5 separate regions of the Homo sapiens genome follow, and all the other regions are linked to region 2. The links come from fine-mapping of genetic effects on gene expression. A gene starts in region 2. Each other region holds a variant in brackets. All regions are shown on one strand. Distances are between the middles of the regions.

Region 1 (5,104 bases), 120 kb before region 2:
TGTAGCCATCTTAATCAGCATCCCCCATCTGTGAGGTCATCGGGATATTTCAAACAATCTTCAGCTCTCATTAGTTGAGTGCGTTTCACAGGCAAGTCCTTATCTTTTGTAACTTTTGCTGCCACATCCTGAGAAAGGCCTCTCTGCAGAATGACACTTTCCCTATGGGTCAGCCCGCCATAATGAGCCACCAACTGAGGTGCCCTTTGCACTCACTAGCTGTATATGTTGATATTAACCTTTCGTGTTGCGAGATGTCGCTTTTACCCTTGGCTTCTGCCATGTAAGTCTCATTATTTCTAATAGGCTGTGGCAATTAGGGTCTTGGGGCTGCTGATCGCAGCCATGTGGAGCGGGGAAGGGGCACTGGGGAGAGCAGTTGCTTTTTCTTTCATGAACAATGTGATGCATAGCTCAGCCCAGATCTGCAAACAGCGAGCTGTAGTAGACCTCCGGCCGAGGATGGGAAATTCCACACCCAGCGCTTTCACATGTCCTTTCTTCACGCCAACTACTGGCTATTTGCAAATCCCTTTTGTGTAGAATGACATGCTTGGCAGATATTTCAGCACATTGGATTTGGCCTAATAAGGAATTTATTAAACAAGATTATTTGGGGATAAAATGGATACATTCAAAGACACTCTTTTTTTTTCTTTTAAAGATAGTTGTCCGGAAAAGGAAGAGGATGACACTGATGACCAGCCGTCTTGGGTGGTTCACAGGCTCACTAAGGAGGCAGTGTTGAGCCTGACGGATCTGTGAAGGCCCCTCCGACTTGTAACTGTAAAATGATGACTCTTGATGGAACTCTACAGTTGTTGACACCTGGTGGGCCACCTACAGCTGAAGGTAAATAAAAAGCTGTTTCTTCAAGGTTAGAACAATAAATTGGTAGAATCCTAATAGGGATAAGGGAATGAAGAGGAAAGATTCCACAGAAGGGCAAGTGCATAAGGAAAATCTACAAATAACGAAAAACATAACAGAGGGTCAAGCTCTCACATTCTCTTCAGTTCTTTGACCTGAAGCTCTTACTGTATTAGAAAGATAGCAAAACAAAATGAAGCATGATTTTTGCTTCAGACTAGAAGATGTTGAAGGCTAAGGGACAACAGCCCAGAGGAAAGACATTAGCTTATTTATAGGTAGCAGAGCTTGAATATTCTACATGGGGGCAAGATTTTTCCAAAGAAATGCAAGAAAAAGCCCCTATATTAATCTGCTGTTTATGAAAATAACACTTGGGAAAGCCCCTGCAATGAATGTCTCATAAATTAAGGGCATAAATTCAGAAATCCTAGTGTGATACTACTAAAATAATCCCTCCTGGCAATGGAGCAGTATGGCCTGCTGAGAGCTCCTTACTCCTGATAGCTGATTTATTACTTGCTCTGCAAAATGACTCATTTAAAATATAAGTTCATTTCAGCTAGGTTGGTCACAGTATAAATATGTGGTGGTGGCAAGGTGGAGAGTGCAAAATATATAGCCAGTAAACATCAAAAATTAATTCTTCCTTGAATAGATAAAAAGTTTCCAGTAGAAAGCATAAGAACCAATTTTCCTTCCTTCCTTCTCTCCTTCTTTTTTTCCTTCCTTCCCTCCCTTCCTCCACAACCATTTAATCAGCTTGTGCTATGAGTAAGCATTGGACCGGGAGCTGATGATACTATGCACCTGGTAATGAAATCTATGGCCTCTTTGCATTCATAAGTGTCTTTTCCAGGCTACTCCCCCACCACCCAGCTCCAATTTTATTCTTCTCCCTTACTCCATGCCTGGGAAAATAGAATATAACCCACATGGAGGGGAGGAAACTATTGGGGCACAGAGGAATTCTCAGTAGAGTTCAAGGGCATTTACATATTTATGGCATTGGCTCTTTGGTTTTTCTTTTTTGGATGCTTTTCTTCCCATTCGAACACTGCTCCCCAGACCTCTGGAGCAGTACAAAGGGCCTGGGGCTGCCTCACACATAGCAGGGAGGATTCTGTCCTGGGAAGTCCAAGCAGGAGCAGGATAGGACTCAGGGAAGGATGGCTTGGGCCAGCTTCTCTCAGACCCAGGGAGAAGAGCTCTGGTTCCTCTTATTTCTTGGGATCATCCTTCCTTACTTTTTTGAGTTTTTAAGGCTTTCCCACCTATCTATCATCTATCTATCTATCTATCTATCTATCTATCTATCTATCTATCTATCTATCTATCATCTTTCTGTCTGTCTACCTCTCCATCACAGTACCTAAAGGGGAC[C/T]TTAGAAGGTAATAAAAATGATTGCAAATGACTAAACCCATTGAACAACTGCCAGATGAGAAAACTGAAGCTCAAAGAAGGCAGGTGACTTTACCAGGGTAATGCAGTGTCTGGTAGAAGCTGCTCACAATCTTAAATCTGTAGTCTTTAAATGCAGCATTTATTGCCTACGATGTTATGACTCTTGGAATAGTTACTAAACTTTTTTGTTCTTCTATTCCCAACTGGGATCCCCTTAGTGACCCTTATTGAGAAAAGTCTTCTAAGTTCAAGAATAGAGGACATGTGGGAGAAGGTGAATTATGGAGCTGGAGCTGGAAAGAATTCAGTGGCGTGACTGTGCTGTGTGTACTGTTGTCAGCTATAATTCAACAAGAGCTCTTACAGAGAACTTTCTTAATTTATGTTTAAAGTTTTTTTCCCTCTGGTGCTGTGTCCATAAATGGCCAGATTATAGGGGACCGTTTTCTTTGGTATTGTTTATAGTTATCTTGTGCCAATACACAAAGTTGAAGCACTTCTTTCAGAAAATAAAATTATATTCTGATAAACTACAGTTTGGAAGTAAATTTGGTGGTAAGTGAGCATTTTCTGGTGCTGAGGGGACTATGTAGGGCAGCAGTGAGGTGATCAGCCCTCTGACCTTAGAACAAAGAACTTGGAGGAAGAGCGCACACACCTCACAAGAGGTTGTCACTTTCTCCGTAACTATTTCCACATTGGGTTACAAACCACAATTCGTGTCTGTTTCTAAGAGACCGTGAGATATTTTTCAGTTCAATTTCAAATTGCTTCTGACAATTGAGAGGGCTTCACAGCTTTACTAACTGATCAGTGGTTTGGGCTTTCAGTTATTTGATGCACAGAGAGTTTCATGAAGGAGTGTTTTAAATGAAACTTTCACATTCATTCCTTTTCCAATTGGACGGATGCACAGCAAAATTCAGTGGTGTAGCATCTCACAATGGACAGATTCAGTTTGACAGTGGGTAAAATTTTGTTCCCTGTGTTTTAAGGTTCAAAGTGATAAAACAAACCTGGTACGGAAATAACTGATTGTGGAACGCGAAGGACCTGTGATCATGCAAAGGTGACAGAGCAGGTAAAATGTTTTGGACAAGAGGGAGAGAGTTTGCAGGTAAAGAACCTATAAGGGGCAGAAAGAGGAATGCAGGACACTTCGGGATGTGGGTCACATTTTGTCCTGGAATCAGTACTTACCAGCTTAGTCTGAGGCCTTGGGACAGAAGTGCTGCTCATAAAAGTAAATTGTGTTTCTGCAATGAAATCTCTGAAACTTCAGGAGAAGAGCACTTGGTCAGCTTGCTTGGGGTTACTAGTTCAGTGGTGACATACAAGTGTGTGTGTGTGTGTGTGTGTGTGTGCACGTGCATGCGCATATTTGTGTGTTTAGACGGTGTGTGCTCACTGCTTCAGAGAGCAGTTTCAGGGCCATCTGTTTTGAGCTCAGTGTGACTCCAGATAACCAAGAGTAGGAAACAACTCTGGGGTGATGATGGCAGCAACAGTGACCTCAAAGTAAAGTGGTGAGTATTTTTTTACTATCTTCCCTGATTGTGTGGGACCCTCAAATATTTCCCCAATTATTTCTGGGAATCCTAAAGAGCTACCTCTTAAGTCCTCTAAGCAAATTATCTCAGCAGCCTGAGAAAAGGGACTTGCCATTTTCCCTCTTCTCTGCCTCTGAATCCATTTGGTAATTATGGCCAAGAAGTCACATGTAGACTGCATTGCAGTGGGGTGTGGCTGAGAGGACTTGCTTTAGGGTGGAGCGAAGTAACATGCTATTAATCTGTTCATGTAACCAAGCAATCTGTCTTTTATTCTACATATTGTCACATAGTCCATAGAGCATTCAAGGCCTGGAAAGAAAAGAACACTAACAACAAAACCAAAACAAGTAGACAAACAAAACAACTTCAAAATACAGCTCCTGTTCTGTAGGAGCACATAGTCCATTGGAGGTCCACTTACACACACACACACACACACACACACACACAAGGGTGGTGTAAACAGTGGTGCTGGAGTCTCCTGAGATTGTGCCCGGCAGCACGGCATCAGGAAAGACCCCATGGGAGCAGAAATTTTGAGATTGGAGCCCTATTTTGAAGGAAGAGTAACATTTGGACAGGTTCAGGTGAAAGGAGGGAGAACTTCCTAGGTAGAGAAGTGGCATGTGGCAGGAACTTGCATGGCGAGAAGCTGAAGCCAGCTGTTTGGTTGGTAGGAAGATCAGTTTTCCAGGAGCAGGCAGTCAGTGTAGACAATCCACACTGGCGAGGTAGCCTGGAGTTAGGCTGTGGAGGACTTTAAGGACAGTCTCATTGGATCTGGGGCCCACCCTAATGCAGGATTATCTTATTCCAATCCTTACCTTAATCATGTCTGCAAAGATGGCATTTCCAAATCAGGTCACATTCTGAGGCTTTGGTGGAGGTGAATTTTTGGGAGATGTTATTTAATTCACTACAGATGAGTTAAGATTGGGGCTGATTATAAACTGCTATAATTGGGGTAACAAGGAAAGGCTTTTTGGAGGGAATCATATTTGAGTTGAGACTTGACCAAGGACAAGGAAGAAGCCATGTGAATGTAAATAAGCAGAAGGAACACCAACAGTCAAGACCTTAAGATGACAATAAGTTTAGTGTTTAGAAAGAATGACAGCTTTTTTTGTCCTCTGTGATGTGAATTTTCTCCCTTGAAATGGTGCTAAAGCATTTAAGCCTAAAGAGACAAAATAGGAGACAATCTTGGAATTGAATCCACTCAATCTGCCTGCTGCTCTTGCTAAGGTCAAGGCTGTGCTGTGGATGAACATGACCTC
Region 2 (5,087 bases):
TTGAGGAGTTGGACAGGCGGTCTTAGGAACAACCTCGTTTTATACTTTTTAAAAATAGGAATTTACTTAAAGGCAACTTCCATCTGCTCTCATTCTGGCAGAGGTATTGTGATAAAGGCTTTCAGGAATGTCAACAGCTCAGGATTGGCATTAGCTCATAGATAATTCCCGTCTACTAAATTAAAGTCTATGAGAGATTGATGCATGCACCAGAGTCTTGAATTATTAGGCAAGGATCTTGCTAAAGCTGGACATGGGAAGGTTGCTATGAAACTCATTTCAAAGGCTGTGTAGGCCAACTCACCTCTGGGAAACCAACGCTTATTATTAAACCAATGCAACTGCTCAAAAACTAAAACTCCATCACTATCTAAGTTCCCCATCATGGTGTGTGAAATCATTTCCAGAAAACTCTTCAAAAGATACCGAATAAAAGGCATCACAGGCCGGGCACGGTGGCTCATGCCTGTAATCCCAGCACTTTGGGAGGCCCAGGCTGGTGGATCACCTGAGGTCAGGAGTTTGAGACCAGCCTGGCCAGCATGGTGAAACCCCATCTCTACTAGAAAAATACAAAAATTAGCCGGGTGTGGTGGTGCGCACCTGTAATCCCAGCTACTTGGGAGGCTGAGCCAGGAGAACCTGGCAGGCGGAGGTTGCAGTGAGCCGAGATCACGCCATTGCACTGCAGCCCAGGTGACAGAGTGAGACTCCATCTCAAAAAAAATAAATAAATAAAAATAAAAATAAAAAAAGCCATCACGAAAAGACATTTCTTTATCAGGTCAGCAAATTGATTGCTGGTTTCAATCTCTCAAGAAGTCAGATTCTTTTCAGACACTCCTTTGTGTTTCTTTACAATGTAATCAGTCATTCCAGGGTCAGCTATGAGGCACACTCCCCTGGCCTCCCTCATAAGCAATTTAATTGCAAAGGGTTAGCATACTATTTCTTCTCTGCTATTCTCAGAATTCTCAATTATGAAAACAAAAACAATAATTAAAAAGTTCTTCCAGCTGATTTTTTTTTTTTTTTTTTTTTTGAGACAGAGTCTCACTTAAACTCTGCTGCCCAGGCTGTAGTGCAGTGGTGCAATCTCTGCTCACTGCAACCTCTGCCTCCCACGTTCAACCAATTCTGCTGCCTTCCCCCCTGATCCCCGAGTAGCTGGGATTACAGGTGTGCACCACCACGTCCGGCTAACTTTTGTATTTTTAGTAGATGGGGTTTCGCCATGTTGGCCAGGCTGGTCTCGAACTCCTGACCTCAAGTGATCCGCCCGCTTAAGCCTCCCAAAGTGCTGGGATTACAGGCGTGAGCCACTGCGCCTAGCCCCACGTGCATTTTTTTTTTTAAGGGAGGCAGGAAAGAAGGCATTTGGGCCTCTTATCTGCAATTTTCTTCCGTGTAAACTTATGTGAAGGATCTGGAGTGGGACTTGGTGGCTTCAAGCCCTGGCTCCACTTCTTGATGGCTGCGCGACCTGGGTTAAGTCACGCAACCTCTCTGAACCCTAGTTTATTCATCTGTAAACAGGTCAATAATAGCACGAGATTCGCAGCGCGAGTGGAGCTCAAAGTGCAGGGTTGTCCCTGGTGAACCTATCACTTTTATATTTATCCTTTGATGAAGCCAGTACAATTCCTACCTGGTTAACCAGATACATCCCACCTCTTCCCTCGAGTTCGCCCTTCCCCCCGCCTCGTGAAGTCCTTGTTCTCTTAGCTGTCTTGAAAATCCTATGCATCAGCATGTAGGAAAGGGCGCGCCAGGCGGGGGAAGCCACCCCCGCCCAAGCGCCTCCGGCTTCCCTTATAAAGGGAGGGCCCCCTTCGCGACCGCAAGCGCGCCCAGGAAGACCACAGAGCCGCCGGTGCGCAGCGAGGTGGCGATACGCGCCCGGGCTCGGCCTGCGGGTGGTGGCCCAAGCGTCCGCCTCGCTGGCCTGGCAGGCGCGACTGTGCGTGCGCAGCCGAGGGTGGTGGCGGCCGGCACCCCACGCCAAGGGTGGTGGTGGCCGGCACCCCACCCTCGGCCGCCGCCTCCGCGTGTCAGGTGCCGTGAGAAGCGCGGGAGGAGCGGCCGCAGGCAGCGCCCAGGGATATGACTGGAGCCGACTTTCCAGAAGCGGCGCACGCAAAGCCCAGCTCCGCACGCAAAGGGGAGGCGACAGCAGAAACTTCAACCCGATAAAGTTCGCCGGAGCGCGGAGATTCGCCTCCTCCTGCCACTCTCCGCCCCGCTCGGGTCCCGCCCCGCTAGCTCCCCCAGGCCCCCCCAGTCGCCCCAGCTTGGCTCCCCGCCCTGCGCCAACGGCTTCCATCGCAGCCTGGGCGGCCCCGCGCCCACCAGCGGGCGGCGCCACCTGGAGTGGCCTCTACGCGGGAAATCTCAGGGCCAGCTGCGCCCCAGGAGCCTTTGTGTGCCCAAGCACTGTCGGGGCCCCGGGGCGGGGGAGCGGCTACTTTTAGGGATTCCTGATCTCGCCGCAAGAACTGGAAAAAATTTAGCATGCCAAAGAGCCTCCACTGAGGTGGCAATTTGTTTGCGAGAACCTAAGATAAAATTTAAACAACCAACCAGGGGCGCTGTGAGGCAAACCGCTGCCACTACACTGGCTTTCCGGGAAGCAAGCTCAAGTCGCGGAGAGGGAAGGGAGGTCGTGCGCTCGGGGCGGGGCGCGCTCCCAAGTCGAGCGCAGCGGCCGGGGCAGGTTGTACCGAGCGTGGTTCTGGGGACACCGTGCGGCCTCGATTGGAGGTGGCTGTGATGAAGCGCGGTTACCGCACAATGGAAACGTGGGCACCTCCGCTCCCATGAAAGCCTGCTGGTAGAGCTCCGAGGCCGGCCGGTGCGCCTGGACGGGAGTCCGGGTCAAAGCGGCCTGGTGTGCGGCGCGCCCCGCCCCCCGCAGGCCCCGCCCTGCCAGGTCGCGCTGCCCTCCTTCTACCCAGTCCTTAAAACCCGGAGGAGCGGGATGGCGCGCTTTGACTCTGGAGTGGGAGTGGGAGCGAGCGCTTCTGCGACTCCAGTTGTGAGAGCCGCAAGGGCATGGGAATTGACGCCACTCACCGACCCCCAGTCTCAATCTCAACGCTGTGAGGAAACCTCGACTTTGCCAGGTCCCCAAGGGCAGCGGGGCTCGGCGAGCGAGGCACCCTTCTCCGTCCCCATCCCAATCCAAGCGCTCCTGGCACTGACGACGCCAAGAGACTCGAGTGGGAGTTAAAGCTTCCAGTGAGGGCAGCAGGTGTCCAGGCCGGGCCTGCGGGTTCCTGTTGACGTCTTGCCCTAGGCAAAGGTCCCAGTTCCTTCTCGGAGCCGGCTGTCCCGCGCCACTGGAAACCGCACCTCCCCGCAGGTCAGTCTGTCTGCCGAGGCGCTGCCCGGCGACCTCTTCAGATGGATTATTACAGGTAGCGGGTGGCGTGGTAGGTACTTTAAAGGAAATCAAGCGCCACCGCCTCGATGCCCGCAGCGTTGTCCCCAGATTGCAGGAACCGTTACGCGCCTTGCGGGGAGGGGAAGGGTTTGGCGCTGGGTTACAGCGAGGTGGAAACACGCCCCTTCTCTTCTCCAAGGGAGAGTGGGTTGGGGATGGGAAGGGGCGTCTTCGGCCATTTCTCCAGAGAGTCAGCTCCGACCTCTCCACCCAACGGCACTCAGTCCCCAGAGGCTGGGGTAGGGGCGTGGGGCGCCCGCTCCTGTCTCTGCACCCCTGAGTGTCACGCCTTCTCCTCTCTGTCCCCAGCATGGGCACCAGCCTCAGCCCGAACGACCCTTGGCCGCTAAACCCGCTGTCCATCCAGCAGACCACGCTCCTGCTACTCCTGTCGGTGCTGGCCACTGTGCATGTGGGCCAGCGGCTGCTGAGGCAACGGAGGCGGCAGCTCCGGTCCGCGCCCCCGGGCCCGTTTGCGTGGCCACTGATCGGAAACGCGGCGGCGGTGGGCCAGGCGGCTCACCTCTCGTTCGCTCGCCTGGCGCGGCGCTACGGCGACGTTTTCCAGATCCGCCTGGGCAGCTGCCCCATAGTGGTGCTGAATGGCGAGCGCGCCATCCACCAGGCCCTGGTGCAGCAGGGCTCGGCCTTCGCCGACCGGCCGGCCTTCGCCTCCTTCCGTGTGGTGTCCGGCGGCCGCAGCATGGCTTTCGGCCACTACTCGGAGCACTGGAAGGTGCAGCGGCGCGCAGCCCACAGCATGATGCGCAACTTCTTCACGCGCCAGCCGCGCAGCCGCCAAGTCCTCGAGGGCCACGTGCTGAGCGAGGCGCGCGAGCTGGTGGCGCTGCTGGTGCGCGGCAGCGCGGACGGCGCCTTCCTCGACCCGAGGCCGCTGACCGTCGTGGCCGTGGCCAACGTCATGAGTGCCGTGTGTTTCGGCTGCCGCTACAGCCACGACGACCCCGAGTTCCGTGAGCTGCTCAGCCACAACGAAGAGTTCGGGCGCACGGTGGGCGCGGGCAGCCTGGTGGACGTGATGCCCTGGCTGCAGTACTTCCCCAACCCGGTGCGCACCGTTTTCCGCGAATTCGAGCAGCTCAACCGCAACTTCAGCAACTTCATCCTGGACAAGTTCTTGAGGCACTGCGAAAGCCTTCGGCCCGGGGCCGCCCCCCGCGACATGATGGACGCCTTTATCCTCTCTGCGGAAAAGAAGGCGGCCGGGGACTCGCACGGTGGTGGCGCGCGGCTGGATTTGGAGAACGTACCGGCCACTATCACTGACATCTTCGGCGCCAGCCAGGACACCCTGTCCACCGCGCTGCAGTGGCTGCTCCTCCTCTTCACCAGGTAAAGCCTCTGGGAGGCGTGGGCCAGGTCTTTTCTCCTCTGAAAAAGGCGGAGTAGAGACAGAATATGCTGAGTTTGCAAGCAGGGCCCCGGGTTTGGGGTTTCGCTCCAGGTCCCCACCCCTCAAAACCAAGATCGCGTCGGTAAAGGGACTCACAGTGAGGGCTGCGACACGCGCACGCGCCCCACCCAGCGGTGCCCCGACCCCTCCGGTCTCCTATCTTGTCTCTATCGTCCCCTCCCCTGCTTGCGAGTGAGAACACATTTGCAAAGACCCCTCCACCCCCCGGAA
Region 3 (5,104 bases), 180 kb before region 2:
TAGAAGAGGAGGCCTGGAGAAAGAGTCATTGTCCCTGATTTTCATTTTAGTGGGGGAGGCAAGCACTATGATACTATGCTAGAATACAGGCCCTGCCGAAGTGCTCCAGAACCAGCCTCAGAGCAATGAGGAAGGATTTGAGGGCTTGCATGTGAGTTGGCTCTCGCAAGAGCAGAACTGGACAGGAGGACTGAATTCTGAGTCCTGGCGACAAAATTCAGGAAGCAAATGAGAATCCAGAAGTCCAGCACATAAGAGCCAGTGGAAGGGAAGAATCCAGCCGAGGCAGAGGTCTGTGGGGAGGGCCGTGCGTGAGCGGGTGGATCCAGCAAGGCCCACAGATCAGCAAGGAAGCCAGAGAGTGGGACGTTTTTGGTAAAACCCGCTGCTGGTGATGGCCTGGAAAGATGTTTTCTGAGAAAGCTTGGGCAGCTTGAATGCTGGGAGAGGGTGTGGTGGTCCCTGGGGCAGGAGACCCTTCTTTCTGACTCTGTAACCACAGCCCCGGTCTGCTTCATCACTCCGTGGGCAGTGATGGTCTGTGCCCAAAACGCTGTGATTCGAAAAGAGATAATTTGCAGGCAACATGAAGAAGTCCCAAAAAAGACAGTATTAGAAGAAAATGTCCTTCAAGAGTTTTAATGTAGGTGGAGAGAAGGCAGGATGGAATTCAAAATCATGTTTTGAAAGGACATGGTGTCCTTTCAAAGCTCCAAGCGTTGCTTTGCTGTGCTCTGGGCATGCCTTGGGCTGGATGGGAAGAAAAGTGAAAATAAAGTGTGTGTGCATACATGCATGTGCACGTGTGTGTGTGTGTGTGTGTGTGTGGTGTTTTCTAAAATATCAGAGGACAGGATGTCTGACAAAAGACTCTTGTTAAATGTGTTGTTGAATTAAGTTGCCTTGGAAAGAATTTCTAAAAAAGCTTTCAGAATCAACACTTCTCAGTTTCTCAGCAAGGATTTTGCCAGAGCAATAGAAAAAGACATTACATTGTTCCCAATTCAGTTCTAGCACTCTCTTTTTTTCCTTGCATACTGTCTTCACAGGAAGGAAAAAGTTGTCTAAGGGAGGAAGACTCAGGGCGTTGCATCGGGACTCCCCGTTCTCCTCTAAATCCTACCTCTTACGATTCTTTTCAACTCTTTTTCCAAACTTTTAAAGGCTTTGTGGACTTCTTAGAAACCGAAAGTTCCCAAGAATAGAATACGTGTCCACTGGAAGTCCCCGTAGGTGCCCAGGGCTGGCGGGACTCTCTTGGTGGTGTAGGACCTTGCTTGGATGTTGAATGTGTGGGAAGGACACCCACAGGGGGAAACCCAGGATGGTGGACGTGGGGCCAAAATATGCAGCAGCTGCAAAGGATCTGGGTACTTGGCTCTACTGCCCTCTAATGTGAGAGAAGCCCAGATCAACACGGGAGGGAGTGGGCGTTAGACAACCTGCAAAGAGACAGATCTGAGAGGTGCGGCTCCCCGTGGACTTAGTGTCTTTCAGTGAAACCACCGTTCACTCCTGAAGATCTGAAGATGGAGGAAGTTTTTCCCATCCTACTCTCCCCTTTTAATTTCCTAAGCAAAATATCATTTCATCTTTCTCAGTCCATCTTTTGTGTCTGATGAATGGATTGAGCTAGATAATCTCTAAGGTCTTTCCAGCACTAACCTCCTATGCAAGGTTGGCTGCATAATTTGCAGGGCCTGAAAATGCAAGGCCCTCCTTCGAAAATCAAGGAAAAATGATGTGAAAATTACTAAAACATAAAATTCCTTCCTTTCCTCTGTACTTTCCCTCTCGACTTGTCATGAAGTTTTTAAAATTTATTGTTGTTCTAAGAAAAGAAAAATTAAAATTTAATGATATTAGCATAAAATGGCAATTTTAAATGTAAATAGAAGAACATTTAAATTTTACGCAGAATCACTAAAATTATACAATTTATATTTCTCAGTTTGTA[C/T]ATTCATATATATTTTGTGTTTGCCAGAACAATGGAAATGCTATACAAAATGAGCTCAGATTGTTTTCATTTCATTTTTTTGTATGAGGACTTTCTACCAACAGTCTGTACCTTTGACTTACTGATGAGTAAAGAAAAACTGAGCTGGGTGCACAGGCTCACACCTGTAATCCCAGTGCTTTGGGAGGCTGAGAGGGGAGGATCACTTGAGGCCAGGAATTTGAGACAACCCTGGGCAACATAGTGAGACCCTATCTCCACAAAAAAATTAAAAATTAGCTTGGCGTGGTGGTGCAGGCCTGTAGTCTTAGCTACCCTGGAGGCTGAGCTGGGAGGATCGCTTGATCTCAGGAGTTCAAGACTGAGAGCCATGATTGCAACACTGCACTCCATCCTGGGCAACAGAGCAAGACCCTCTCTCTTTTTTGAAAGAAAAGGAAAGGAAAAAGAACAACTGAAGGGAAAAGGAACTATGAGTTGCCCCATTTCCCCCTGTCCTTCTGTGTCACCATTTTCACCGTAATTGGTTGGCTAATACAGGAAAATCACATGAGTAAGAAAGCAAAAAGCTGATACAGGAAAAAAAATCAACTGTTTCTGTAAAAAGTAATAAAAAAGGAGCCATCACAGGATCTTTAATATACAAAGATGTTACAAGAAGAAAGAAGGAAAGTAGTAGGAAAAACAAATATCAAATGAAGTGCAGACTCTAGAAGAATGTTGCAGCCCATGTCATAAAACTATGACATTAAAAAAGAATGAGGCCGGGCATGGTGGCACATGCCTGTAATCCCAGCACTTCGGGAGGCTGAGGTGGATGGATTGCTTGAGGACAGGAGCTCCAGACCAACCTGACCAACATGGTGAAACTCCATCTCTACTAAAAATACAAAAAATTAGCCAGGCATGGTAGTAGGCACCTATAATCCCAGCTACGTGGGAGACTGAGGCAGGAGAAGCGCTTGAACCTGGGAGGTGGAGCTTGCAGTAAACCAAGATTGTGCCACTGCACTCCAGCTTGGGCAACAGAGTGATACTCCATCTCAAAAAGAAAAAAAAAAAAAAAAAAGGCCATACCACTTACCTGTTAAAATGGCCAAAATCCAAATCCAAAACACTGCCAACACCAAATACTGGCAAGGATATGGAGCAATAGGAACTCTCATTCATTGCTGGTGGGAATGCAAAACGGTAGAGCCACTTTGCAAAGCAGTTTGGTAGTTTCTTACAAAACTAAACATACCCTTACCATACGATCCAGCAATCATGTTCCTTGGTATTTACCCAAATGAACAAAAACTTGCACACAAATGTTTAGAGCAGCTTTATTTATAACTGTAAAACATGGAAGCAACCAAGATATGCTTCAGCAGGTGAATGGATAAATAAACTGTGGTACATTTAGACAATGGAATATTAATTAGTGCTAAAAAGAAATGAACGATCAAGTCATGGAAAGACACGGAGGAACCTTAAATGCGTATTACTAAGTGAAAGAAGCCGATCTGAAAAGGCTTCATATGATACCAACTATATGACATTCTAGACAAGACAAAACTATGGAGACAGTAGTAAGATCTGTGGTGGTCAGGGGTTTGGGGGAGGGAGGGCTGAAATGGCGGGGCACAGAGGATTTTTAGGGCAGTGAAACTACTCTCTATGATAGTATAATGGTAGATACATGCCATATATCTGTCCAAATCCATAGAATGTACAACTCCAAAAGTGAAGCCTAATGTAAACTATGGCTTTGGGTGATATTGATTTGTCATTGTAGGCTCATCATTTATAACACGTGTATCCCTCTTGTGGGGGATGTTGATAGTGGGGTGGGGGCTATATGCACATGCAGTCAGGGAGTATATATGAATACTGTATTTTCTGCTCAATTTTGTTGTGGACCTAAAACTGCTCTAAAAAATAAAGTCTATTTAAAAAAAAAATATGACTGGGCACAGTGGCTCGTAATCCCAGCACTTTGGGAGGCCAAGGTGGGTGGATCATTTAAGCCCAGGAGTTCAAGAGCTACCTGGGCAACATGGCGAAACTCTGTCTGTATTAAAAGTACAAAAAAATTAGCTGGGCATGGAGGTGCATGCCTGTAGTCCCAGCTACTCCGGAGGCTGTGGTGGGAGGATCTCTCTCTCTCTCTCTCTCTCTGTCTCTCTCTCTCTCTCTCTCTTTTTTTTTTTTTTTTTTTTTAAGGCAGAGTCTCAGTCTGTGGCCCAGGCTGGAGTGCAGTGGCACAATCTCAGCTCACCGCAACCTCCGCCTCCTGGGTTCAAGTGATTCTCCTGCCTCAGCCTCCCGAGTAGCTGGGGCTACAGGCATGCCACCACGCCTGGCTAATTTTTGTATTTTTAGTAGAGACAGGGTTTTGCCATGTTGGCCAGGCTGGTCTCAAACTCCTGACCTCAGGTGATCTACTGGCCTCAGCCTCCCAAAGTGCTGGGATTACAGGCGTGAGCCACCGCACCTGGCGGATCTCTTGAGCCTGGGAGATGAAGGTTGCAGTCAGCCACGATCATGCTACTGCAATCCAGCCTGGGCCACAGAGTGAGACCTTGTCAAAAAAAAAAAAAAAAAAAAAAAAAAGACAAATATTTTAGAATTAATTTTAAAAGTAATTAAACCAAGGACCCAAAGCAAAGAGACAAAAAGATCAGGGAGAGATGTATTGAATTAAAAGTTGCTAATATATAAATAGGGATAATATAATTTACCAAATAAGTTTCAAGGGATGATAACATATCTATATGGACCAATTACATTAGAAGAAAGCGAGAAAGCTGTCAAACATCTATCATCCCCAACAAGCACAGAGCCTAGAATTTAAAACAAAAACAAAAACAGACCCTATAATTGAAATTAGGGCTCTGTTGGAAGGAACATGAAGGAAAACTGACACTGTTGATTGTAGAGGGTATACATGAGAAATCTGAGCAAAACAAAAAAGGATTTCAAAGGCTAGGAGACACTATTAGCCTGTGTACTCTTAGAACAGACTCTTACCTTTTACCTTCCATAAAATGAGTTTTATCCTTCTACAAATTGAGGTATAGATTTTTAAAAATAGTCTCATTTATAGTACTATATTATCTTAAGGATTTGAAGTATAAAAAGTAAAGGCATGCTTATTTGAAAAAG
Region 4 (5,104 bases), 140 kb before region 2:
CAAGCTGGAGTGCAGTGGCGCAATCTTGGCTCACCACAACCTCCACCTCCCGGGTTCAAGCGATTCTCTTGCCTTAGTCTCCTGAGTAGCTGGGATTACAGGCACACACCATGCCTGGTTAATTTTTGTATTTTAGTAGAGATGGCGTTTTGCCATATTGGCTAGGCTGGTCTCAAACTCCTGACCTCAAGTGATCTGCCTGCCTTGGCCTCCTGAAATGCTTGGATTACATGCACGAGCCACCATGCCTTGTCCTGTTTTCATTTCTCTCGGGTATATAACTAGGAGTGGATTTGCTAGACCAAATGGAAAGTCTGTGATTACATTTTTGATGAGCTGTTAGACTGTTTTCCAAAGTGATGGTGCCATTTTATATTTCCACCAGCAGTGTATGAAGGTTTCAATACTTTCACATCCTCACCAACACTTGTTATTATTTGACTTTTTAAAACTACAGCCCTGTTATTGGTTGTGAAGTGGCTATATCATTATGGTTTTGGCATGTGTTTACCTAATGACTAATGACGTTGGACATCTTTTCATGTGCTTATTGGCCATTTGTGTATCTTCTATGGAGAAATACTTGTTCAGTTTTTTTGTCTATTTTCAAATTGGGTTATTTGGCTTTTTATTATTGACTTGTAAGAGTTCTTTATGTATTCTAGGTACAAGTCCTTTATCAGATATGATTTGTCAATATTTTCTCCTATTCCTTGGGTTGTCTATTCACTTTCTTGATGGTGTTCTTTGAAGCACAAAAGTGTTCAATTTTGTTGAGGTCTAACATTTATTTATTTTTTCTTTGATTGCTTGTACTTTTGATGTCATGTCTAAAAATCCATTGCTAAATCCAAGGTCATGAAGATTTACCCCTATGTTTTTTTCTAGTAGTTTTATAATTTAGTCTCTTAAATTTAGATCTTTGATCCATTTTGAGTTCATTTTTGTATACGGTATGAGGTAACTTCCCTTCTGTCAAAGCATCTGGCAGTATTTGCAATCCTAGCTTCTTTGACACTTTGGATTTGGGAGAGAGGGTATGAAGAGCAGAGCCTCTAGCCAACTCACAAGTGACATATAGCGTGAGCAAGAAATAAACGCTTATTGTTTCAGCTGCTATGATTTGAGGGTTGTCTGTTACTATAATATAATTAAGTCTATGCTGATTGATGCAAGCCTCTTATCAGATTCTGTTATATTTGGTTTTATTCTCTCCCACCTTGACCATTGTCCATCTTGTATGCTGTTTGCAAATTTATCTTTCTGAAATATAGTCCCAGTCAGGACACTCTATCATTTACTTAAGCTATTTGGTGGCTTGCAAACTTCTTAGTGTGACATTCAAGGCCCTTAGGATCCTGCTCCAATTGCATTGCCAGAATTATTTCCTTCCTTCATATAATTTTGTTTCAGTCAAAAAGAAATCACTTGCAATTCTCTCATATGTTCTGCTTTCCCTTCTCCACGTTTGTTAATGCTTTTCCCTCCACCTGGAGTGCTTTTTGTTGCTTGCTGGCCTGCGGAGATTCTACTCTTCACCTCCTCGTTGCAGACCGATTTGCTGTAGCTGGGTCCCTTCCTTTGTTGAGGGCTCAATGTGCATGAGATGCACAGATACGACAGTTCCTCACAAATACAGCCTTTCCCCCAACACTTGTCTGGAGGACCCAGAACATAACCTCATCTCATTTTTTTCTCTTCTTTACTTTGCAAAGAGGAGGTGCTCAGTACAGATTTGTTGAACAAACTAAGGAACAAATGAATTCCTGATTTTGCTTCCTGTGTCCTCAAAATAACAGCAGCAGCAGCAGCAGGATCCTTTTCAGTTCATTAACAATCATGTTGCACAAAACAGATGCTGGCGAATAGTAGATGCGCTGCCAAATACATGTGCGCTTCTGGAGTTCTTCATTTTGAC[A/G]GAAAAATGAGTCCTTGTGTACAGCCACAGCCTTTCCCTGGAAGCAGCCACCTTTATGACAGTCTCCCCATGAGGAGGAGAGGTTCCTCCAAGCCCCAGGGGTTTACAATCCCATGTGATTCCTCGTGAATAGTCCTGCCTGCTGGCAGGGCTGGGGCAGCACAGAGAAGGTCTGGGGACACTGACCCAGAGCAGATGTGTAACAGCTCAAACTGCAAAGCCTCTCAGGAAACCATCAGCCAGAGGCACAACCACAGCCATTGTCTGCTGTTCCCTGCCAAACCTCCACCTTTCCTCTGTCATCTTCATCTCTGATTCCCCAGAGGACCCGTCTCTGACTACCAGACCTCAGCGCTCCCTGGGAAAGGCCCCCAGGGAGGATTTGTCCCTGACTCCTCCTAAACATCCCAAACCAGCTAGACAGAAGGAGCACATTTTAGTAAAGTATTGGGTGTTTTTATAATAAAGCATACGGGGGAAAAAATGTATTCTTTCAGGCGGCCGATAACAAGAAGTAGCTGAGGTGCCTTCACCCTATGAGGGCACAGGGAGAAGGTAGCAGTCTGCGACCTGGAGGAGCACCCTCACCAGGACACGACTTTGCTGGCACCCTGATCTCAGACGTCCAGCTTCCAGACTATGAGAAATAAATGTTTGTAGCTTATAAGTCAAATAAAAAAGAAAGAGACAGAAAGAAAGAAAAGAGAAAGCAAGAGAGCAAGAAAGGAAGAAGGAAAGAAAGAAGGAAAGAAAGAAAAATAAAGGAAGGAAGGAAGGAAAGAAAGAAAGAAAGAAAGAGAGAGAGAGAGAAAGTAGTTGAGTGAGCCTGTGGATCCCTGTAGCTTAATTGGGACTGAATCATAAGACAGGGCAAAACTCTGGGGATGTGTTGCAAAAACATTGACTCTGGGTGCCAGCCTCAGCCCTGTGCCTGTGAGACCTTAGGCAAACTGTGGTTAGTTAATTCCGTTAATTAACCCCCTGAGCCACTGATTCCTTATCCTAAAAACAGGGAAATGCCTACCTCACCCAATCTTCTATTAGGCAAATTAATGAACTAACATAGGGAAATTACTGGCACACGGTGAACACTCAGAAAATATTAGATTCTTTTCCTTTGAAGGAGGCATTGAGGATGGCAAAGAGGCTGCTACTCAGATTCAGGGACCGGCAAAACGAGGACAAATATTGATGGAGTTCCCACCAACTGCGGGAGCCCAGTGTCTGCTGGCTGGTGCAGACAAGCACACAGGCGATTGGAGACAGGGTGATATGGACCATCTGGAGCTTGTGAGCTCATATGTGGGGCACCTACTCTTGGGAGTAGAGGGAAGGGAGGGTTCCAGGAGGGGTCCCTGTAAGCCAGGTTAGAGGATTAGTAGGAATTAACTGGGAAAAGTGTATGAAACAGCATTCTGGACAAAGGGAACAGTTAATATGAAGACTTGGAAGCCAGAAATCCTTGTGAATAGTGGACTGCTGGTAATAAAAATAATAAAAACACCAGCTGTGGACCTACTATGTACTAAGCACTCTGCTAAATGTTTTATATACATTGTTGCCTTAATTTTCACAACAACTCTTTGAGCGATGTATTATTAATCACACTGTTTCACAGAGGAGGAAACTAAGATCCAGAAGCATAAAGGAATCTTTGTAAGATCATGGAGCTTGCAGAAGATGGGGAAGGGCTTTGATCAAGACTCCTTGATCAAAGAGTCATTGCCAGCTCTTGCTCCTAACCACTGTACAGAGCTGTCATCAGTAACTGGTTGTGCCTGAGGAAGTACTTCCTGTAGATGTTGGGGTGGCCACTCCTCTAGGCAAGCCTGTTAAATCAATGGTTAGGTAAACAGAACAGATCCATGAAGCCAGTCTAACTCTGCCCTTACACCCTACCTGGCCACCATGTAGATGCCCATTGGGCCAGTGCAAAACCACTCCCATGATTGACCAAAGAACTACTCACAGGGATGCAGTCCAATAAAGGTGTGTTGTGGGGGGCCTGCCTCCCATGGATGCTAGGCACACAGACTGCCATGTGAATCCTGCCCTCCAGGGTTGTGAGGAGTGGCAGTCTTGTGCCATTTGGATGATCTGGTATGTTGGCATTTGTTGAGAAAGTGAGTTACTGACTAGGTCTTGGAGCTCATTTGTTTTTCAGATTAATGAAGAAAACATCTTTCTTGCATTAGAGTTTGGCCCAATTTGAAACATAGTAATGGCGTTAGGTGATTTGGGAAGGAGGGGTGGATACTGGAGGAGACAGATAGTTGTCATAATTTAAGCAAAAATATTTTCCAGTCTTCAAGTGAGAAGTACATTTGACACATAGAAAACGATTGGTGCTTGTGGAGTTCTATCTATGTTGATACTTTTCTCTGTTAAATTTCCTGCCATTATCTTAAAAAGTAAAGACCCATTATGAACACATGAAAAGATGCTGAACATCACTAGCCATCAGGAAAATGCAAATCAAAATCACAAGGAGATACTACTTTGCACTCAGTAGCATGGTGAGTACAAAAAGGCAGGTCAAAAAGATGGGTAATAGCAAATATTGATCAAGATGTGGAGAAATTAGAACCCTCATACATTGCTGATGGGAATGGGAAATGGTGCAACAGTTTTGGAAAACAGCCTAGTAAATCCTCAAAAGGTTAAACCCAGAGCTACTGCATGACTCAGCAGTTCTACTTCCAGGTATTGCACCCAAGATAAATAAGAACACATGTCCACAAAAACAAACACAAACACAAACAAAAAAACACCCTTGTACATGAAGATTCATAGCAGCATTATTCATCACAGCCAAAATATGGAAACAACCCAAATGTTCATGACTGGTAGATGGATAAACAAAGTGGGGTGTATCCCTGCAATGGAATATTATTTTGCAATAAAAGGAAATAAAATAGTGATAAATCTTGAAAATATTATGCTAAATTTAAAAAATTTGTTACAAAGAATTATGTATTACATGATTCCATTTATACAAAATATCTAGAATAAGCAAATCTGTGCAGATAAAAGGTAGATTGGTGGTTGCCTGGGGCTGTGTGTGGGCTGGGGAGAAATGGGGAGTGACTGCCAATGAGTATGGGGTTTCTTTCTGGCGTGATGAAAGCATTTTAATATTGAATGCGATGTTCATACAACTCTGTTAATACACTAAAACCATTGAAT
Region 5 (5,104 bases), 87 kb before region 2:
CATTTGAAAATATCCTCGCTTGTTTTCTAATAATCATGCCTGGAGATGCCACAGATATTTAGTGAGCAAAGGCCAGGTATTCCAAAGAGTCAGTCCTGCAAACAAGAATCGTCTTGCCCAAAATTTTAATAGTGTTGCCAGTGAGAGACCCCAGAAGGTGGAAAAGTTTGAATTGTGTGTGATCTAAGGTATCAAGGTACAGACTTTGGCACTAGGCAGTCCTCAAATTCAGTAGCCATGAGATGTGAGGAAAGGTCCGACTGTTCAGGAAAGAAACCAAGACATGTAACAAAGCCTACCTCCCAGCTATCTCTATTTCTCTCTTCTCCTCTCCCAAACCCCCAGCCCTGACCTAATCTCTGTTAGGATCCCAGAGATGGACCCAGTAGTCTCATATTCATTTCTGGTGAAGTCATAACACAAGCTCTCTTTTCACTGGCCCCAGGCCCTGTCACTCCTAGCTAGGTGACCTTGGGGAGTCACTTTATCATGCAGGACCTGGAGTGTTCATTTATAAAATCAGTAGCTCAAGTTGGATGATTTTTAACACCTGTTTTATTTCTGACATTCTGACTTTATTTTAGTCTAGAAATTCTTACTCTATGTAGAGAATAGCCTTCGGTATATTATTCCTAGTTGCTCAGTTGATAACGTGAAATACCTTGTTAACTGGAGCCAAACTTAAATCCACAATAAAAGACTAGGCTTATGCCATTACTTGTTCTAAAGAAGGAGTACATTTACTTGAATTCTTTCCCATGATCCAACAATTGTCACGTGGACCTTACTTAAGGGCAGAGTTTCATTCAGTAAAATATATTCACTTTATCATTCATTAAGCAGCGTTAAGTTTGTAGTCTTTGTCCTAGATTAAGATTTCTATTGACGGTTTGGGGCCAGATAACTTTTGGTTATGCAGGCTGTCCTGTGCATTGGAGGCTGTTGAACAGCATCCCTGGCCTCCACTTAGTTGGTATTAGTAGTACCCCCATCTAGTTATGACAACCAAAAAGTCTCCAGACATGGCCAGATATCCCCTGGGGGGCAAAATCACTGTCCTTAATGTTGGGGATGTGATGACTAATACCCATTCCCTGTTCTCTAGGATCTCACAGTCCTCGGTGAGGAGAGAACCATTGCACAGTTAGTTACGATACCTCATGGAAGCACACTGATGGTGCTATCCATCACAGCATATTTTGGGAGCAATCAGCCAGGGAAGTCCCCTGGCCGAGCCTTCACGGATGAGTAGGGTTAACCAAATGAAGCATAGGCAGAGGGCAAAAGGTGACAGCAGTTGCAAAGCCACAAAGCTGAGCAACAGCTTGGGGTGTGTGAGGGACTTCTTGCCCATCTGCAAGGCAGCAGGTTGGCAGAAGTGATATTGAAGAGGCAGACAGCACTTTGTAAGGCTTCTCAGATGTTCTCTTCTGGGGAATGGGGAGTCTCAGGGAGCTCTGAGGCAGGGGAGAAACATGGTCAGATGTAAGTTGTAAACAGACTGGATTTGCAGCAGACAGGCTTGGAGGCTGTTGGAATAGGTAATCTAAGAAAAAGAAGATGAGGGCCTGAGCCCAGGCAGAGGGTGAGGGGCTGGAGAGGAGAGATGAAGAGGGGCCTGAGGGAGCACCATCATGGAACAGCAAGGGAGGCCCTTTTGCACCCATGGCCAGAGTTCTCCAGTTGCCCACATTCTCAGGGAAGGTACACAAACCATTATATATATATATATATATATATATATGTGTGTATGTATATATAACCATTTTTATATGAAGTACACTATATATCATTTATATATATGTGATGAAGTTACATTCAATGAGAAGGTGATTAACCTAATTTTGCAACTAATTGTATTAGTCCATTTTCCTACGGCTGTGAAGAAATACCCGAGACTGGGTGATTTATAAAGAAAAAGAAGTTTAACAGATTCACATTTCGACATGGCTGGGGAGGCCTCATAATCATGGCAGAAGGCAAAGGAGGAGCAAAGCCATGTCTTACATGGCGATAGGCAAGAGGGCATATGCAGAGGAACTGCCCTTTATAAAGCC[C/A]TCAGATCTGGTGAGACTTATTCACTGTCATGGCAACAGCACGGGAAAAACCTGCCACTGTGATTCAGTTACCTCCCACTGGGTCCCTCCCATGACATGTGGGGATTATGGGGGCTACAGTTCAAGATGAAATTTGGGTGGGGACACAGCTAAACCATATCACTAACCTAATTAGCCAGTGAAGCTTTTGACCAGTTTTTAATGTGTCGAGAAAGACAGGTCTACTTCAGTTTACAGATGTGCAGCAAACGGGCAATGTTTTGCCAACAAACTGTTCTCCATAAGAGAGCATGCCTTTGAATTTCCACATGCTCCTCAGCAGATCCAAACTGTAGGGGGCCACCCTGGGAAATTTCTGGAATCAGGAGGTCTTCCACCACCACCAGCTGCTAATGCTGCTGCCACAGTTTCAATTAGATGGAAATTGAGAGATAGATGAATGCTTAAAGAAGATTGCAGTGAGAAAGCAAAGTGCACACAGTGTATCCTGGAATGATTGGCAGTTGGCTCTCAGGTGTCAGGAGTGTCAGGTTTGTGCAAATGTAATTGCAGTTTTTGCCATTACTTTTAATGACAAAAACAGCAATTGCATTTGCACCAACCTAACAGATTGCTTCTCCCAGAACCTCCAAAATCATTCCCTGTCGGTAACAAAGTTAGGGCACAGGTTACTTTCAAGTTCCTTTAAGTCAGAGATCATGCATTATATACCACTCTGGCCCTTCCACAGAGCTGTGCAAAAGCAGACATTTAATAAGTATTTGTGAAAATGAATCAACATGATGACTGCATTAAGTTCTCCCCAGCCTAAATAACACTCCCAAGAGGAAAAAAAAAACTCCCAAGAGGGAAGCAGGGATGATAGCTGAAATCTACGGGAGTGTAAGTGGAGTCAAGCCAAGCCTAGAAAATTGGTGGAAGGGGGTATTTCGACACGCAGAGCTGACCCCAAGCAAACCCAAGAATTAGACAAACTGTGTCTCTTTACCTTTATTCTCATGGCAACCCCTGGCTTCCCATGCTTCTCACCTAGGTTCTTAGGTTGGACCATGCCAGGTGGCACTCTGGGTCCCTCTGCTGCATGCAAACAGCTCCTCTATGATTTATGCTGACGAGCTCTATGATCTTGGAGGGAGTAGCCCCAAAGCTATTATGAGGTGATAGCAGAGACCTTCTTTCTTCTAGGACTGAAAACTTTTCTCTTCTTGGCTAACCCATATTATCTCTGTCCTGCTGTGAAGTTTGATTATATAAAGAGAGGATGGATGGGATTTGAATTAATTATACTGATTTCATCTGAAGGAAGTCTCTTATTCAAAATATCTTCCTTTTTGGTAGATCACTGAAGATTGTTTTGAGTTGAGCTCTGTGTTTAAAAAGAGTTGCTTTACATTAGAACATAATATTCTTAGCAGATTGAGATCAACATCCTAGGAATAGAAATTTTGCCTGGGACAGAGAGGAGAAAGGAGAAATGTTGTATTTTTACAGTAGACTTAGATGGCAAGGCAGTAAAAGGTTGGGGAGAGGTTCAAAAATGGAGATAGGAGAACAACAAGAGAAAGTGTGGCTTATATTGGGATTGTTCTCTAGGGTCCTGGTGGTAACCAGTTCTTCCAGGGCTTTGTGGTTGAGTTCCAAAGGTCACACAAACCCCTTGGCTCAGAATCTCTGATTGAGGAGAGGCTCTCTCTGCAGATCAGCACCAAGTTTCTTTGCTATTCTTTGCTATTCCCTGCTTTAGGGAAAGTTGGAGAAAGTAAAAAGAGACTAACAACAAGCCAGGGAGATATATCCTGAAATTCTTTAATGCTGTATGTAGAATTGAAGAGAGCTAGAGCTGGAAGGGCCCTTGGTGAGTCCCTAGTTTAACGCTTTTTTTTTTTTTTTTCTTTTCTTCCCCCCATAGCTGAGGCCCATAGAGGGTAAGAGCCCACTCCAGGCATGCTGGTTTTAAGACTAAGGTCTGTCCAGTACCTGAATGACGTGCTGAGAATGGGGTATAGGATGGTCCTTTTTTTTTTTTTTTTTTTTTTTTTGAGACGGAGTCTCGCTGTGTCTCCCAGGTTGGAGTGCAGTGGCGCGATCTCGGCTCACTGCAAGCTCCGCCTCCCGGGTTCAAGCAATTCCCTGCCTCAGCCTCCCGAGTAGCTGAGATTACGGGTGCCCGCCACCATACCTGGCTCATTTTTGTAGTTTTAGTAGAGACGGGTTTTCACATCTTGACCAGGCTGGTCTTGAACTCCATACCTCGTGATTCACCCACGTCAGGCTCCCAAAGTGCTGGTATTACAGGCGTGAGCCAGCGTTCCCAGCCAGGTTGGTCCTTTTTTAGGAAGCAAGAATACTTGTGCAGAAAGGAAGCCACACTGTGGCTGGGTGGCTTTAGTTAGATCTTTTGCAACTATTCATGCCATAGTTGAGATCTGGATTTTTTGCTTCCCGTTGATGTTTGCCATTAGGTTTATTAAAGGATCTTATGTCAAGCTGACAAAGGCACCTGAGTTGAGAGAGTGGGGCTTGAGGGAATGAGAAGAGGAGCCCAAGCCCGTGCCTGAAGGAAACAGCCTCAGAAGAAGGCAGCTTTGCCCAACACTCATGAGGCCATTGCCAGATGAAGCTCTATTTCATATCTGTATTTAGTTTCAATATAAAAAGATGTACTAGATTTATGCTGCAGCTAGAAAAATCCCAAAGTAGGCCACCCTTTCTGTGGTTGGTCCCCTAGCTCCATTTCTGAACCCCTCCCCAACTGTTCACTGCTTTCCTTTCAGAAGACTTCCCCCATCCCTGCCTAGCCCATCTGCCTCTACTGCAAAATGCAACATTGCTCCTTTCTCTTCTCCAGACACAATTTCAATTCCCAGAATGTCGATCTCAATCCACTGAGGATATTAAGTTCCAATGTAAAGCAACTTATTTTAAACAAAGTTTTTAAAAGTTCAGCTGAAAACTCCAGCTGCAAACCTCCCAGAGTAGATGTATCTCGGTTTAAGATGTGTGGCCTTAGAGCAAGTAAGTGTATTCCTCTCTCCTGAAAATACCCT

Direction of the effects. Positions count from the first base shown, and alleles are read on the strand shown. Sizes are in standard deviations (SD) of each study's normalised expression. Not every link is listed here.
As copies of C replace T in region 1, the expression in sigmoid colon of the gene that starts at base 2,990 in region 2 goes up (small effect, 0.31 SD a copy in GTEx).
For the expression in subcutaneous fat of the gene that starts at base 2,990 in region 2, C is the high allele of the variant in region 5 and A is the other (moderate effect, 0.45 SD a copy in TwinsUK).

Evidence for each region. PIP is the estimated chance that this variant, and not a neighbour inherited with it, causes the effect. A credible set is the group of variants that fine-mapping cannot tell apart.
Region 1: its variant is the best candidate, but not a certain one, in a credible set for the expression of CYP1B1 in sigmoid colon (GTEx, PIP 0.66).
Region 3: its variant is the best candidate, but not a certain one, in a credible set for the expression of CYP1B1 in whole blood (INTERVAL, PIP 0.67).
Region 4: its variant is the best candidate, but not a certain one, in a credible set for the expression of CYP1B1 in uterus (GTEx, PIP 0.63).
Region 5: its variant is the best candidate, but not a certain one, in a credible set for the expression of CYP1B1 in subcutaneous fat (TwinsUK, PIP 0.57).

Annotation. Positions count from the first base shown.
Region 1 is chr2:38,198,250-38,203,353 of GRCh38, reverse strand. It overlaps LOC102723739 (a long non-coding RNA gene), which reads left to right. Exons shown (of 4, transcript XR_007086289.1): 2 at 665-852; 3 at 3,270-5,104. Among named protein-coding and RNA genes, the nearest start is that of CYP1B1-AS1, 70 kb to the right of the region's middle. The variant C/T (reference allele first, on the strand shown) is at 2,254.
Region 2 is chr2:38,074,054-38,079,140 of GRCh38, reverse strand. CYP1B1 (cytochrome P450 family 1 subfamily B member 1) reads left to right here and starts at 2,990. Exons shown (of 3, transcript NM_000104.4): 1 at 2,990-3,361; 2 at 3,752-4,795. The coding sequence starts at 3,753. RefSeq lists silencers at 1,875-1,994, 2,905-2,994, cis regulatory regions at 2,038-2,067, 2,988-2,995, an enhancer at 1,969-2,167 and a promoter at 1,634-3,009.
Region 3 is chr2:38,256,865-38,261,968 of GRCh38, reverse strand. No RefSeq gene overlaps it. Among named protein-coding and RNA genes, the nearest start is that of ATL2, 120 kb to the left of the region's middle. The variant C/T (reference allele first, on the strand shown) is at 1,958.
Region 4 is chr2:38,215,690-38,220,793 of GRCh38, reverse strand. The region is part of intron 1 of LOC102723739 (a long non-coding RNA gene); the gene reads left to right. Among named protein-coding and RNA genes, the nearest start is that of CYP1B1-AS1, 87 kb to the right of the region's middle. The variant A/G (reference allele first, on the strand shown) is at 1,919.
Region 5 is chr2:38,161,236-38,166,339 of GRCh38, reverse strand. The region is part of intron 2 of CYP1B1-AS1 (CYP1B1 antisense RNA 1); the gene reads right to left. It also overlaps a transcript of LOC107985871 not described here. Among named protein-coding and RNA genes, the nearest start is that of CYP1B1-AS1, 33 kb to the right of the region's middle. The variant C/A (reference allele first, on the strand shown) is at 2,058.